Linked DNA regions of Homo sapiens. The protein of the gene in region 1 interacts with the protein of each later gene in a pairwise test. Each region holds a gene or a part of one and is shown in the gene's direction. Other genes may lie near its edges.

Region 1 (7,356 bases):
GATTACATATCTTTATGTGATGCATGATTATATTTGCAAACCATACATCTGATAAGGGGTTAATATCCAAGATATATAAGTACTTAAAACATCTCAGTAGCAGCTGGGCATGGTGGCTCATGCCTGTAATTCAAGCACTTTGGGAGGCGGAGGCGGGTGGATCACCTGAGGTCCGGAGTTCAAGACCAGCCTGGCCAATATGGTGAAACCCAGTCTCTACTAAAACTACAAAAATATTAGCCAGGAGTGGTGGTGGGTGCCTGTAATCCCAGCTACCCAGGAGGCTGAGGCACAAGAATCACTTGAACCCAGAGGCGGAGGTTGCAGTGAGCCGAGATCGTGCCACTGCACTCCAGCCTGGGTGACAGAGCAGGACTCTGTCTAAAAAACAAAAACAGAAACAAACAAAAATCTCAATAGCAAGAAAACAATGTGATTTAAACAACACGCAAAGGACCTGAATAGATATTTCTCAAAAGAAGACATACAGCACTTTGGGAGGCTGAGGCAGGCGAATCGCCAGGTGAAGAGATCAAGACCATCCTGGCCAACATGGTGAAACCCCGTCTCTACTAAAAATACAAAAATTAGATGGGCATAGTGGTGTGTGCTTGAACCCAGGAGGCGGAGGTTGCAGTGAGCCGAGATCGAGCCACTGCACTCCAGCCTGGTGACAGAGCCAGACTCTGTCTCAAAAAAAAATAAAAAAAGACATAAAAATTTCTGGCAACTATCTGAAAAAATGCTGAACAATGCATGGATCATCTGGGAAATGCAAATTAAAACCAAAATGAGATACCACCTCACACCTGTCAGAATGGCTTATAAAAAAAAGACAAGGCCGGGCGTGGTGGCTAACGCCTGTAATCCCAGCACTTTGGGAGGCTGAGGCAGGTGGATCACGAGGTCAGGAGTTCAAGACCAGTCTGGCCAACATAGTGAAACCCCATCTCTACTAAAAATACAACAAAATTAGCCGAGCGTGGTGGTGTGCACCTGTAATCCCAGCTACTCAGGAGGCTGAGGCAAGAGAATTGCGTCAACCTGGGAGGGGGAGGTTGCAGTGAGCCAAGATTGTGCCATTGCACTCCAGCCCAGGCAACAGTGCGAGATTCACCCTCAAAAAAAAAAGGAGATTCTGTCATTTGTGACAACATGGAAGAACCTAGAGGACGTTACGGTAGGTGAAATAAGCCAGGCACAGAAAGACAAACACGACATGGTTTCACTTATATTCGGAATGTAAAACAACTCATAGAGGTGGAGAGTAGAATGATGGTACCAGAGTCTGGGGATTGGTGGGAGTTGGGGCGGTGGGGAATGGGGAAATGTTGGTCAAAGGGTACAGTTTCAGCTAGACAGGAGGATTTTTTTTTTTTTAATTTGAGACGGGGGTCTTACTATGTTGCCCAGGCTGGTCTTGAACTCCTTGGTTCAAGCAATCCTCCCACCTTGGCCTCCAAAAGGGCTATGATTACAGGCCTAAGCCACCATACCCGGCCCAGGAATGTTTTTTTTTTAGAACTATAGCATGGTATGGCCAGGTGCGATGGCTCACACCTGTAATCCCAGCACTTTGGGAGACTGAGGTGGGTGGATCATCTGAGGTCGGGAGTTCGAGACCAGCCTGACCAGCATGGAGAAACCCTGTCTCTACTAAAAATACAAAAAATTAGCTGGGGATGGTGACACATGCCTGTAATCCCAGCTACTCGGGAGGCTGAGGCAGGAGAATCACTTGAACCTGGGAGGCAGAGGTTGTGGTGAGCCGAGATCACGCCATTGCACCCCAGCCTGGGCAACAAGAGCAAAACTCTGTCTCCAAAAAAAAAAAACACAAACTACAGCATGGTCACTATAGTTAATGTATATTTCAAAATTGCTGAAAGTAGCTGGGTATGGTGATACACCATAGCCTGTAGTCCCATTTACTCAGGAGGCTGAGGCCCACAGATCACTTGATCCCAGGAGGTCAAGAACAGCCTGGGCAACAAAGCAAGACCCTGTCCCATATTTTTTTTTGAAGCAGAGTCTCACTCTGTTGCCCAGGCTGGAGTGCAGTGGCATGATCTCGGCTCACTGCAACCTCCGCCCTCCAGGTTCAAGCAATCCTCTTGCCTCAGTCCCCCAGTAGGTGGGATTACAGGCACGGTCCACTATGCCCAGCTAATTTTTGTATTTTTAGTAGAGACAGGGTTTCGCCATGTTGGCCAGGCTGGTCTCAAACTACTGACCTCAGGAGGGCTTAGTGGCTCATGCCTGTAACTTTGGGAGGCCAAGGCAGGAGGATCACTGGAGGCCAGGAGTTCAAGACCAGCCTGGACAACATAGCGAGGCCCCATCTCTATAAAAAATTTAAAAGTTAGCCAGGCATCATGATATGTGTCTGTGGTCCTAGCTACTCGGGAGGGTGAGGCAGGAGGATGGCTTGAGCCCAGGAGGTCAAGGCTGCAGTGAACTGTGATCTTGCCACTGCACTCCGTGTGGGTGACAGCACAAGACCTTATTTTCCTTAAAGGAAAAAAAAATGCTAAGAGTGGCTGGGTTGGGTGGCCCATGTCTATAACCCCAGCACTTTGGGAGGCCAAGGTGGGTGGATCACAAGGTCAGGAGTTAGTTCGAGACCAGCCTGGCCAACATGGTGAAACCCATTCTTTACTAAAAGTACAAAAATTAGCTGGGCGTGGTGGCGCGCGCCTGTAGTCCCAGCTACTCAGGAGGCCGAGGCACGAGAATCGCTTGAACCAAGGAGGCGGAGGTTGCAGTGAGCCTGGGCGACAGAGCGAGACTCCGTCTCAAAAAAAAAAAAAAATTAGCTGGGCCTGGTGGTGCGCGCCTGTAATCCCAGCTACTTCAGAGGCTGAGGCAGGAGAATCACTTGAACCTGGGAGGCAGAGGTTCCACTGCGCGGAGATCACGCCATTGCACTCCAGCCTGGGCAATAGAGTGAGACTCCGTCTCAAAAAATAAAAGTCCTTAACCAGTCCATATTTCTGAATATTTTGCTTATTCCTGCCGGCAGTGTAATACTCTGGTGAATATTTGCGTTCGAGATCCTTGCATTCCCGAGATTTCCCCAGCTCAGCCCTCTGCGTGGGTTGAACGGTATGAACCTTTTTAAGGCTTCGCTTGTACTGTACTGTCAAGCTGTTTTTTGGAATATTCGCCCCAGGTTTCTGTTCCAGCCAGCAGCCAGCATCAGCCGTCTGCATCCTTGTCCTCAAACTGCTGTTAATTAAAATCTTTGCCAATCTGGGCCGGGCGCGGTGGCTCACGCCTGTAATGCCAACACTTTGGGAGGCCGAGGCCGGCGGATCGCCTGAGGTCGGGAGTTTGAGACCAGCCTGACCAACATGGAGAAACCCTGTCTCTACTAAAGATACAAAATTAGCCGGGCGTGGTGGCGCATGCCTGTAATCCCAGCTACTTGGGAGGCTGAAGCAGGAGAATCGCTTGAACCTGTGAGGCGGAGGTTGCAGTGAGCCGAGATCACGCCATTGCACTCGAGTCTGGGCGACCAGAGCGAAACTCCGTCTCAAAAAAAAAAAAAAAAAAAAAGAAACCTTTGCCAATCTGGTAGAATTGCGGGGCTTATTTTATGGTGTCATGGAGGATAGCCTAGGGCCAGATATACCTGGGGCCCTGTGCCTGCTCTGCGAACTAGGAGCTCACTCTCCGAGCGGTGTAGAGGGTGAGACTAAGCAGTGACAGTAAAAGCTTTCGACAGTGCTTGACCCTTCCGCGGAGCGTATTAAGCAGGAGCTCCCTGCGCAGGCGCAGAGGAGAGAGTGTCTCCCACCCCACGACCAGCAGGGGGCCTGCGAGGCGGGTGCGGAGCCAGGCCTGATGGTGGCCAATCGCGAGCTGAGGCGACGATGCCACGCCCCTCATACCGGCGTCTTAAATGCGCAAAGAAAGGACGCCGGGGACACCCGGTTGGGCTCTGCTGCTCCCTTCTGGGTTCCGAGGCCCAAGCCCTTGGCAGTGTTTGTGAGTGGAAGGGAGGTCACGCTATCGTCCGCGGCCCCAGCAGCCCTGTGCCCTCGTTGGATCCCGCGACGCGGCTCCTTTAAGAGCCTCGCGGGTCGCCCGCCGCTAGGTCGCTCCCCGGCCATGCGGGCGCTGCGGGCCGGCCTGACCCTGGCGTCGGGCGCGGGGCTGGGTGCGGTCGTCGAGGGCTGGCGGCGGCGGCGGGAGGACGCGCGGGCGGCGCCGGGACTGCTGGGCCGGCTGCCCGTGCTGCCCGTGGCGGCGGCAGCCGAGTTGCCCCCTGTGCCCGGGGGACCCCGCGGCCCGGGCGAGCTGGCCAAGTACGGGCTGCCGGGGCTGGCGCAGCTCAAGAGCCGCGAGTCGTACGTGCTGTGCTACGACCCGCGCACCCGCGGCGCGCTCTGGGTGGTGGAGCAGCTGCGACCCGAGCGTCTCCGCGGCGACGGCGACCGGCGCGAGTGCGACTTCCGCGAGGACGACTCGGTGCACGCGTACCACCGTGCCACCAACGCCGACTACCGCGGCAGTGGCTTCGACCGCGGTCACCTGGCCGCCGCCGCCAACCACCGCTGGAGCCAGAAGGCCATGGACGACACGTTCTACCTGAGCAACGTCGCGCCCCAGGTAGCGCCCGCGCCCCGGGCCGGTCGCGGAATGCGGGGCCGGCGCCTGGCCTCGCGGGGCCTCGGTTTGTTCTTCTGCAGAACGGGGCAGCTGCCCAACGCGCCCCCGGTCAGGCATCGCAGTGACATCCCGTGGCGGGAGGGAGGAGCACTGGGCTCCAGGCACAGGGTCTGCAGGCCGACCAGGGCTTGAGCTTCAACTGCGAACCCTGGGCACCTCCCTGAGCGTCGCTTTCCTCGTCAAAAAAATGGGGATAATACCGTTATTCACCTTCCTCCTGCGGTAGTGATGAGGCGCTGAGGCTCACAGAGGCAAAGTGACGGGCACAGTGTCACACAGCAGAAGAAGGCTGTCTGTTGTAGAACCGCAGCGCCCAACCTATTGGGCACCAGGGTGCGGTTTCGTGGAAGACAGTTTTTCCACGGCTTGGTGGGTGAGGGCGGGTTTCAGGATAATTCAAGTGCGTTACATTTATGTACATTTTATTTCTATTATTATTACATTGTAACATATAGTGAAATATACAACTCACAGTAATGTAGGATCCGTGGGAGCCCTGAGCTTGTTTTCCTGCAACTAGACAGTCCTATCTGGAGGTGATGGGCAACAACGACAGATCAGGCATTAGGTTTTCAAAAGAAGCGCGCAACCTCCTCACATGCGCAGTTCACCATAGGGTTCCAGCTCCTATGACAATCTCCAGCCGCCACTGATCTGACAGGAGGCGGAGCTCAGGCTGCTGTGGGATCAATGGGGGGGTGGCTGTAAATACAGATGAAGCTTCCCTTGCTCGCCTGCTGCTCACCTCCTGCTGTGTGGCCCGGTTCTGGTACCGGTCTGTAGCCCAGGGGTTGGGGACCCCTAGTCTATAAAACCGTGAGCCTCCAGACATTGTCCTACCCTGCCTGCCTTCAGGCAGTTTCGAGGCAGACACCTGGCCCACGATCAGGTTGTTAGTGCCAGGCACTGTGCACTGGGCCAACCACCCTCTCAGCCTGTTCCCAGCAGGTCCTGGCACCAATGGATGGAGACTGCCATGGGGCTCTGGGTGGAGCCCATGGGGCACCAACCTCTGACCCAGCTTCCTTCTGGGAAGACAGCCCCCTATCCACTTTCCATTGTCCCAGGCCTGGAGAGCTCAGGATGGAGGTCGATTCATGGCATTCCCCGCTAGGCTCTTCCTGTGGCTCAGACTGGGAAAAGGAACGGGTTGGTAGTTGGAAGGGCTGGTCTTCCCAGGAGACCCTGGGTGGGGCTGGGGACAGGCCTCAGTCCTCTCTGAAAGGTGGAGACAGGCTCTTCCTTCATTCGACTCTTGGGAGCTGAGAAAAGACTTTGACACCTGGGCTGTGGGAGGGACAGAGGGTGGTGGCTAGCACTCTATCAGCCCTGGGTTTCAGGGAGTGACTTTCATTCCTTGAGCCTCAGTTTCCCCCCGCTTGTCTCACTGGATATCTCTGAGCCTGTCCATCCCCTCAGGACCTGGGGCGGCCCTCTGATAGAGGAGGAAGGGTCCCAGCCACAGTCCTGCTAAGCCCTATCTCTCCTACCAGGTGCCCCACCTCAACCAGAATGCCTGGAACAACCTGGAGAAATATAGCCGCAGCTTGACCCGCAGCTACCAAAACGTCTATGTCTGCACAGGGCCACTCTTCCTGCCCAGGTAAGGTGGAAACCAGGGGGGCGGCAGAACCTCCCACTCACCTGAGGCCCCTACTGCCACTCACAGGGCCAGGCTTGCCCCAGGCTCTGGGTCAATACCAGTTCCCTACTCATCTGGTTTCTTGGCAAGCCTGTCAGCTTCCCTGCCTCGAGTCCCCTCATTCCACCTCCACAGCCAAAGACCTGTCGGGTACCCCTGACCATCTCTCCTCTGCCCATGGGCAGCAGCAGGCCCTGAATCTGCCCCCGCTTCTCCCTGCTGTCACCTCTTGGCATGCCCACCCAATCTTGTTCTGCCAATATGGAACCCCCCGCAGGTCTGCAGTGCACCAAGCTCTCCCACCTTCCCCCCGCAGGTCTGCAGTGCACCAAGCTCTCCCGCCTTCCCCCTGCAGGTCTGCGGTGCACCAAGCTCTCCCACCTTCCCTCTGCAGGTCCGAGGTGCACCGAGCTCTCCCGCCTTCCCCATGCAGGTCCCCAGTGCACCGAGCTCTCACGCCTTCCCCATGCAGGTCCCCAGTGCACCGAGCTCTCCCGCCTTCCCCATGCAGGTCCCCAGTGCACCGAGCTCTCATGCCTTCCCCCTGCAGGTCCGCGGTGCACCAGGCTCTCCCGCCTTCAGTCTCTGCTCTGCTTGGAGCACTTCCCTCCACCCTTCTCGGGAGTTTGAATCTAGATCTGCCTGACCCAGGGCCTCCACTCTTGCTCCTGTGCAGCCCTGCCTCTCAGGTGGAAGCAACTGAGCACCTCTGGGTGTGCTCCGTGGTTTTTCTGGCCTGCAGAGGGCTGGGGCTGAGAGGCAACAGGTCCAGGCTGAGCAGCTCACTCTGGAATCCACAGGCTCGGGATGGAGTCCAGGCCTCATCACCTAGTTCCTTGGTGCTGTGGGCAAATGACCTGTGTCCCCCTCTGCAAAACCTGTGACCTCTTGGTTGATGTCACATGCTTCCCCAGGGCCTGGTCCATGGTAAGGGCTCGGCATAGGCTGGCCAAGGCGGTGGTTGGGGCACTGATCAAATTTCATTAGCAGGTGCCTCCTAGGGCCTGGTGGAAGGGAGGAGACTCTGCTGAGGGGGAGCC
Region 2 (7,648 bases), on another chromosome or scaffold:
TGTTAAGCTGTAATAATTTAAACGACATAGTACTCGTACAAAAATAGATGAATCGACCCTAAGTAAGAACTCATTTAATGCCTACTAAAGGCACTAATTGTGATGAAAGGCGGGGTGGAGTGGCTCATCCCTGTAATCCCAGCACTTTGGGAGGCTGAGGTGGGTGGGTCACCTGAGGTCAGGAGTTTGAGGTCAGCCTGACCAAAATAGTGAAACCCTGTCTCTACTAAAAATACAAAATTAGCCAGGCGTGGTGGCACATACCTGTAATCCCAGCTACTTGGGAGGCTGAGGCAGGAGAATCGCTTGAACCTGGGAAGCAGAGGTTGCAGTGAGCGGAGATCGTTACATTGCACTCTAGTCCGGGCAACCAGAGCGAAACTCCATCTCAAAAAAAAAAAAAAATTATGATGGAAAACAATCCATAAACAATGTTGGGAAAAAAAAATTTGCAAGATGAAGAAAGATCAATTTAGATGTTCACCTCAGATTTACATGAAAATTAATGCCAGAGGTATTAAAAATGAAATTTAAAATATCCAGAATTGGCCGGGCTTGGTGGCTCATGCCTGTAATGCCAGCACTTTGGGAGGCTGAGGCAGGTGGATCATGAGGTCAGGAGTTCAAGACCAGCCTGGCCAACATAGTGAAACCCCGTCTCTACTAAAAATACAAAAATTAGCTGGGCATGGTGGTGCGTGCCTGTAGTCCTAGCTACTCAGGAGGCTGAGGCAGGAGAATCGTTTGAACTCGGGAGGTGGAGGTAGCAGTAAGCCAAGATCATGCCACTGCACTCCAGCTTGGGCAACAGAGTGAGACTTTGTCTTAAAAAAAAAATCCAGAATTTACAAAGAAAGGTACTAAGTGGATAATAAACATTTATGAATATGTAATGGAAGCCTCAGGTCCCCTTTCTTCCAGCTACGTTTTCATTGCCATTCCCAGTAGTTCTGGTACTGCGGGAAAAATCTACTGTAGAAAATTACCCAATTCAACTGAAGAGTGCCAAGGAGACCTATTTTTCTCCTGTGTGTTTCTGCATTTCAGCCAGTTCCTGGGCTCTCATCTATTCCTTATCATCCATCTGTTTGGGGATGCCATTGTTTTTGTCTGGTTTCCTTTGTCCTGTTGTTCTTTCCCAAACAGGACACCACATCTCTTCCTTTTTTCCTCCAAAGCATTGGTAAACACCAAGCTGTTGCATGCATTCTAACTTTTATTGAGTATTTGATGGTGGAAACATGGCTTAGAGTAATTACAACAAAGGGGAGAAAACTGTAAAATTTTGCATTGGCCATTTTCATTCCTAAAATTTTTTTGGATTGGAGGAAGCGTTCATGTGTGTTTTTTAGTACCACCTGGAGTCAATTTCTTTCATTCAACTAATGCATATTGAAGGCCCACTGTGTGCCAGGCATTGTGCATAGGCCTGGACATCTGGTGGACAACCACAGACATAGATTCTGTCTCTATAAAGAAGGAGACAGGTATTAAGCAAATACCTATATAAATACTCAAATAAAAAAATTCAAAAGTTTCAGGAGAAGGAGCTTACAAAATCTTTCCAATAATAGTATCTTAGTATTCAGAGACAAAGGTCCATCAGAGTAGTATGACATCTTCCAGGTTTGTCCTCTATCCTCGTCTCCTTAGATTCCTGTCTGAGTCCAAGAGAGAGACAGACTGCAAGAGACACTGAAAGAACAGTGTCACTGAGGTCACTGAGACACCTGGAGACATGTCCTGGTCTGGTGCCCATCATGGGAGCAGTGAGGCGTTTCCCTTCTCCAGCACCCTATGAGGTGGATGACTTCCATGCCTTGAATAGCAAGAGATGTGCCGGAGGCCTGGGAGTGAGAGGAAGCAGTGCCTTAAACACCAGCAACTTGTCCCGACACCAGATCCAGCATCAGAGGCAGCAGGGATGCCAAATCATACGGTTGGTGTTCAGCTGTGGTGTGTGCCTACTGTGGTTTCAGTAGGCAGTGCTGAAAGGAGTCAGGGTGGGCTGGGAGTATGTGTGGAATGGAGAAATGTTTGTTAGCACACACAAGATGCCCCTTGGGATTATGGACTTAAAAGGGGACCAGAAGTCTCCTTACAATGGGAGGGCATGAAAGCCAGAGAAATTCCTGTCTCATTAATGCTAACTCACCATGACCCCTGGGCTGATGATACTCTAGGGAAGTATCAGTTATGTTAAAAAGAGTTAACAGGCTGGCTCGGTGGTTCACGCCCGTAATCCTAGCACTTGGGCAAGCTGAGGCAGGAGGATCAAGGTCAGGAGTTCTGGAGTAGCCTGGGTAACATGGGGAGACCCCGTTTCTACAGAAAAGAAAAGAGTTTTTTTTGTTTTTTGTTTTTTTTGAGATGGAGTTTCACTCTTGTTGCCCAGGCTGGAGTGCAATGGTGTGATCTCGGCTCACTGCAACCTCCGCCTCCTGGATTCAGGTGATTCTCCTGCCTCAGCCTCCTGAGTAGCTGGGATTACAGGCATGCACCACCACGACCGGCTAATTTTGTATTTTTAGTAGAGACCGGGTTTCTCCATGTTGGTCAGGCTGGTCTCGATCTTTTGACCTCAGATGATCCACCCACCTCGGCCTCCCAAAGTGCTGGGATTACAGGCGTGAGCCACCGCGCCCAGCCCAAAAAAAGAGTTTTTAATAATATGATGTTGATAATTGTACTGTGGTTATACATGACATATTCCTATTATTAGAAAACACACAGTTGGCCAGGCATGGTGGCTTACACCTATAATCCCAGCACTTGGGAGGCCGAGGCAGGTGGATCACGAGGTCACGAGTTCAAGACCAGCCTGGCCAAGATGGCAAAACCCCGTATCTACTAAAAATACAAAAATTAGCTGGGCGTGGTGGTGGGTGCCTGTAATCCCAGTTACTCGGGAGGCTGAGACAGGAGAATCACTTGAACCTGGGAGGCGGGGGTTGCAGTAAGCTGAGACCATGCCATTGCACTCCAACCTGGGTGACAGAGTGAGGCTCTGTGTCAAAAAACAAAACAAAATAAAAAAAACCCATACGCATTTATTTAAAGGTAAAAGCCCATGATGTATGTACCTTACCTTCAAATGGTTCAGAAAAAAATTTTGTGTGTGTGGGTGTATTTTATATACATATATCTATATATATATAGAGAGAGAGAGAGAGAACACGAAAGATAAAGCAAATGGGGTGAAATATTAACAATAGTTGAATCTAGGTAAAGGGCATATATGTGGCTTTATATTATTGTTATTTTTGCAACATTTAATAAATTTCAAATTGTTTCTAAACAGAGTTAATAAAACAATAAAATTACAGCAGGATACATGCAATAATTAGTGTTTGGACAGTGTATAGTGGGACAAAGGAAGGATCCATCAGCTTTGTCTGGTGATGGGGGTGTCAGGGAAGGCCTCATAGAGAAATTGGAGGAAAGATTGGAAGGATGATGTCTTCTTTTCCCATTTATTTATTATTATTATTATTATTATTATTTTGAGGTGAAGTCTTGCTCTGTTGCCCAGGCTGGAGTGCAGTGGAGCAGTCTTGGCTCACTGCAACCTCCACCTCCTGGGTTCAAGCAGTTCTCCTGTCTCAGCCTCCAGAGTAGCTGGGATTACGGGTGCACGCCACTGCACCCAGCTAAATTTTTGTATTTTTAGTAGAGACAGGGTTGCACCATGTTGGCTGGTCTTGAACTCCTGACCTCAGGTAATCCGCCCACCTCGGCCTCCCAAAGCGCTATGATTATAGGTGTGAGCCACTGTGCCTGGCCAATTATTATTCTTAATTAATTAATTTATTTTTCATGAGGTGTCACCTCAGTCTAAAAGGATGATTTCTTGACAGAGTTGTGTCTAGGGGGCCAGGGCATCTGGGGGAGGTGGGAGAGGGAGAACGCAGGGGAGGATTGTGACCTATCCACGAATCTGATTAGATACTGCTACATTGTATGGCCTGCCTTGGCAAAGCAGGATGCCCCTCCTCAGATGGCGACAGTCACCTGTGTGGCCAGGAACACAGCTCCCTGCTCCTCCAGCCAGTCGCACGTCCTTTCTCATTTCCACGGTCCCAGGCTCAGGTACCCTCAGAGGGAAGGGCTTCAGAGGGAGGGGCTAGCAGCCTAGGCTGCTCAGGGTTGGGCTGGGCAGGGCTCAGGTGGTTTGGCTCTCCACAGCTCTCCACATAAAGGGACCAGCACTTCACCCTTCATCAGGATCCTCTGCAGGGGAGCTCCGAGTGTCCACAGGAAGGGAACTATCAGCTCCTGGCATCTGTAAGGATGCTGTCCATGCTGGTGAGAAAAATGTTTTTGATCCATGTGTGTGGGAGCAATGATGCCAGCTCAGGTCTCAGTTTTAGAGATTTAGAGTTTCAGGGAAATGAGCCCATGGCCCCTTGGGTATTTGTAGTGTTGGACAGCCGTGGGGCATATTCCAGGAGGTTTTAGAATGCTCATGAGCCCATCACTTTCCATTTGAGGATTCCTGACTCAGAAAGGTTAGGAAGTAAGAACGAGAGGATGACAAAGGAAGGGCCAGCCAGTGACCTTGTGCATCTTGTTTTTCCTTAGAGGACAATGACCAGACTCTGCTTCCTGTTATTCTTCTCTGTGGCCACCAGTGGGTGCAGTGCAGGTAAATGGCTTCTGAGAGTAGGAGCTGCAGTTTCCTGGGCTCCCCTCTGCTGTGCAGGGCCTGGAGGGAGTAGAGCTGGGCAGGGCTCTGAAGTCAAGGGTCAAAGGGGAAGTTCTGGAGAGGCAGGGAACCCAGGCTAGGCAGCCAACTTGAGGTGTGGACTGGGTGCTGATTTCTGGCCTCTCCTGGGGTCTGGTCTGAAGCAGTCAGGGTGTTAGCTCAGGTATTTCCTAGGGCTTGATTCTCTGCTTCTGTGGCTGTGAGGGGTTCATGGGGTGAGAGAGTAAGAACTGTGTCCCTGCTCAGCTGCTCTTGTGGCCTTGGCCTTGGGATCTCCAGAGGCAGCTGGGTGATCAGTGCTGTGTCCAGGGTACACCCTCCTCTAGTCGCAGAGGAGGATATTGTGAGAATAGAATCCTCACAATTCTATTCTTCCAGTAGGCACAATAGTGATATTTTTTCATTGATACTGGGTTTATTGTTTATTTCAATCCATCAGTTAAAAAAAGCACATTTACATATGTCATCTCATTTGATCTCCATGCGTATAAAGAAGTTATTAATGACATCTTAAAGATGAAGAAAAAGGATCAGAGATGTTAAGTGTCTGCTCAAGGAGGCACTGTCATCAGGGTTTGTCTGGATTTTACCTTGAGTCCTGTAATTTTTTTTTTTTTAGACGGAGTCTTGCTCTGTTGCCCAGGTTGGAGTGCGGTGGCGTGATGTCGGCTCACTGCAACCTCCGTCTCCTGGGTTAAAGAGCTTCTCCTGCCTCAGCCTCCCCAGTAGCTGGGATTACAGGTGTGCACCACCACACCCCAGCTAATTTTTGTATTTTTAGTAGAGATGGGGTTTCACCATATTGACCAGGCTGTTCTTGAACTCCTGATCTTGTGATCCACCCTCCTCGGCCTCCGAAAGTGCTGGGATTACCGGCATGAGCCACTGTGCCTGGCCTGAGTCCTGTAATTTTACACTTTTTCCCGCTCTGCCAGGCTTTTGGAATGATTTCTAGGCTTTTAGACTTATATACATGGCCCTTCATCCACTGGCCTCTGTTAATTTTTCAGCTTTGGTTTCCAGACTTCTTTGTATTACAACATATGTTCCAGCCACAATAAGCGACTGACCTGTAGTTTTTGGCAGGCTGGGCTGGGCTGGGCTCTGTTATTGCTTCAGGCCATCTCATGTGCTTTCTTCTCTTCCTGGGGTGTACTCTCCCCTTTCCTTCCTGTCCTGTAGCCAGCTCCCATTCTCCCATCAAAATCAGCCTGCTCTGAGTTACAGCTGGTCCCTTCCCCAGCAGTTCCCAGGCCTCACCCCCGTTAGTGGGTTTGCCCTCCCATCTCAGTTGGGTCCCTTTCCATGTGCTCCTTCCTTGTAGAATGTAGTCTCTTGAAGAAATGTGTCAAATTGTCTTTGTCCGGTGTCTAGGTAGTTCACACAGTAGGTATTTAATTAAAATTAGTCGAGTGGAAGATTCCAGGTGTTTAACCTATACCAGCTGTTGGATCAGACCGTCTTAGCATAGGGAATCCCTGACCTCCTGGGACTTCAGAGCAGAGTGATGAGTTGATACAGGGGCAGAGATTGGCCAGGAAAGATGGCCTCAGTGGTCAGACTTCTAATGAGACTCATTCTCACATTTTCTAGCAGCAGCCTCTTCTCTTGAGATGCTCTCGAGGGAATTCGAAACCTGTGCCTTCTCCTTTTCTTCCCTGCCTAGAAGCTGCAAAGAAATCAAGGAACGCTGCCATAGTGCAGGTGGTGAGTAATGAACCAACTCAGCATTCTCTCTTTGAAGCCACTTTTTAGCTCAACAGAGCCCAGTCATGGAAATCAGGAGGGACATATCCATATGGAGCCTGTTCTGCCCCCAGCTCCTACTCAAGGAGGTTTCTAGTGGGAATTTTGAGGCTTTTGTGTCCCATTCCAGTCACAAAGTCTTCTGAACACAGAGAGAATGCAGTGTTCCTGGTGATGCTTATGGTGGTGGCAAGAACTGTGATGCGTCTGAGATTTGCCCCTACTTGCCCCAGGTTTATAGATGCTGGCAGAAAACCTGAAACTCCCGAGCCAGAGACAAAGAGCTTTATTAATCACAGAAATAGCAGTAGCCAGAGCATCAGCATTTTCTTGTACTGGGCCAGGTGACATCTGCCCAAGTAGTGGGTTTGTCAAGCTGGCTGACAAATGTGGCTGGCAAGGAAACAACAAACCCTTTTTAGAGCCAGAGAGTTTATTACTCACATAGCTAGCAAGTTCAAGATCGGCAAAAGTGTCAGCTTTTCCCATCCCTTGCCCCACAAGACAGCACAGAAAAGAGGGCGAGTGACAACACAACATGGGCAGTGGCTGAGGAGCCAGTCCATGCTGCCATAGCTGTTTCATAGCCTGTGTACCCTACGGGGTGGGGGTGAGTGAGGCAAAAAGCCTCATACCTCTTCAGAACCCAGGAGATGATGACACAGTTATGACAGCTGTCTCATGACAGCCTCCACGAAAGATGGGAAGGGGGGTGAGAAGTGACCTTGTTGCAGCTCCTCACAAGGTTCCCATCTTTCCATGTTTGGGGAAGACCACAGGCTTTCTGCCAAGACTTAGGTCAGCTGTCCCTATGTGGCCTATGCGCAAATGTGCAAGGTCACCAGGATGCCACCGTGGAGCCAGTCTCCTGCAAGCTTGTGAACAGGAGGGGAACTCTGAGCTTAGGGAAGCTGAATCTTATGAAGTGGGCACAACCTTTGCTCTGAGCTGCACAGAGGCCCTATCCTGCTGTAGAATCAGATGTGGCGTGTGCTGATTTCTGGCCTCTCCTGGCCACAGGGTGGCACTGTCGAGAGGGAGATACCATCTCTGTCTCTTCTAAGACTATTTGCTCTACAAACTCTTTGAAAAGATAGTGTGAAGCCAAGACAGTCAGTGCCTCTGCTCATAGGTGAGCAGAACACAAGATGCATGGAGCATCGTCTTCCAGCAAGTATGTGTTGGAGTCTTCTGAGT

What was found.
Region 2: the proteins of ENDOG (region 1) and ITLN2 interact in binary tests that used the Homo sapiens proteins (3 or more experiments, as listed by UniProt).

Annotation. Positions count from the first base shown.
Region 1 is NC_000009.12:128,814,572-128,821,927, forward strand, and holds the start of ENDOG (endonuclease G, mitochondrial precursor), read left to right. Parts: upstream 1-3,928; 5' UTR 3,929-4,113; coding exon 4,114-4,614; intron 4,615-5,079; exon of another isoform or gene 5,080-6,167; coding exon 6,168-6,277; exon of another isoform or gene 6,278-7,116; coding exon of another isoform or gene 7,117-7,243; exon of another isoform or gene 7,244-7,356. UniProt on the Homo sapiens protein: Endonuclease that preferentially catalyzes the cleavage of double-stranded 5-hydroxymethylcytosine (5hmC)-modified DNA.
Region 2 is NC_000001.11:160,951,384-160,959,031, reverse strand, and holds the start of ITLN2 (intelectin-2 precursor), read left to right. Parts: upstream 1-4,222; 5' UTR 4,223-4,290; coding exon 4,291-4,305; intron 4,306-4,581; coding exon 4,582-4,645; intron 4,646-6,298; coding exon 6,299-6,412; intron 6,413-7,648.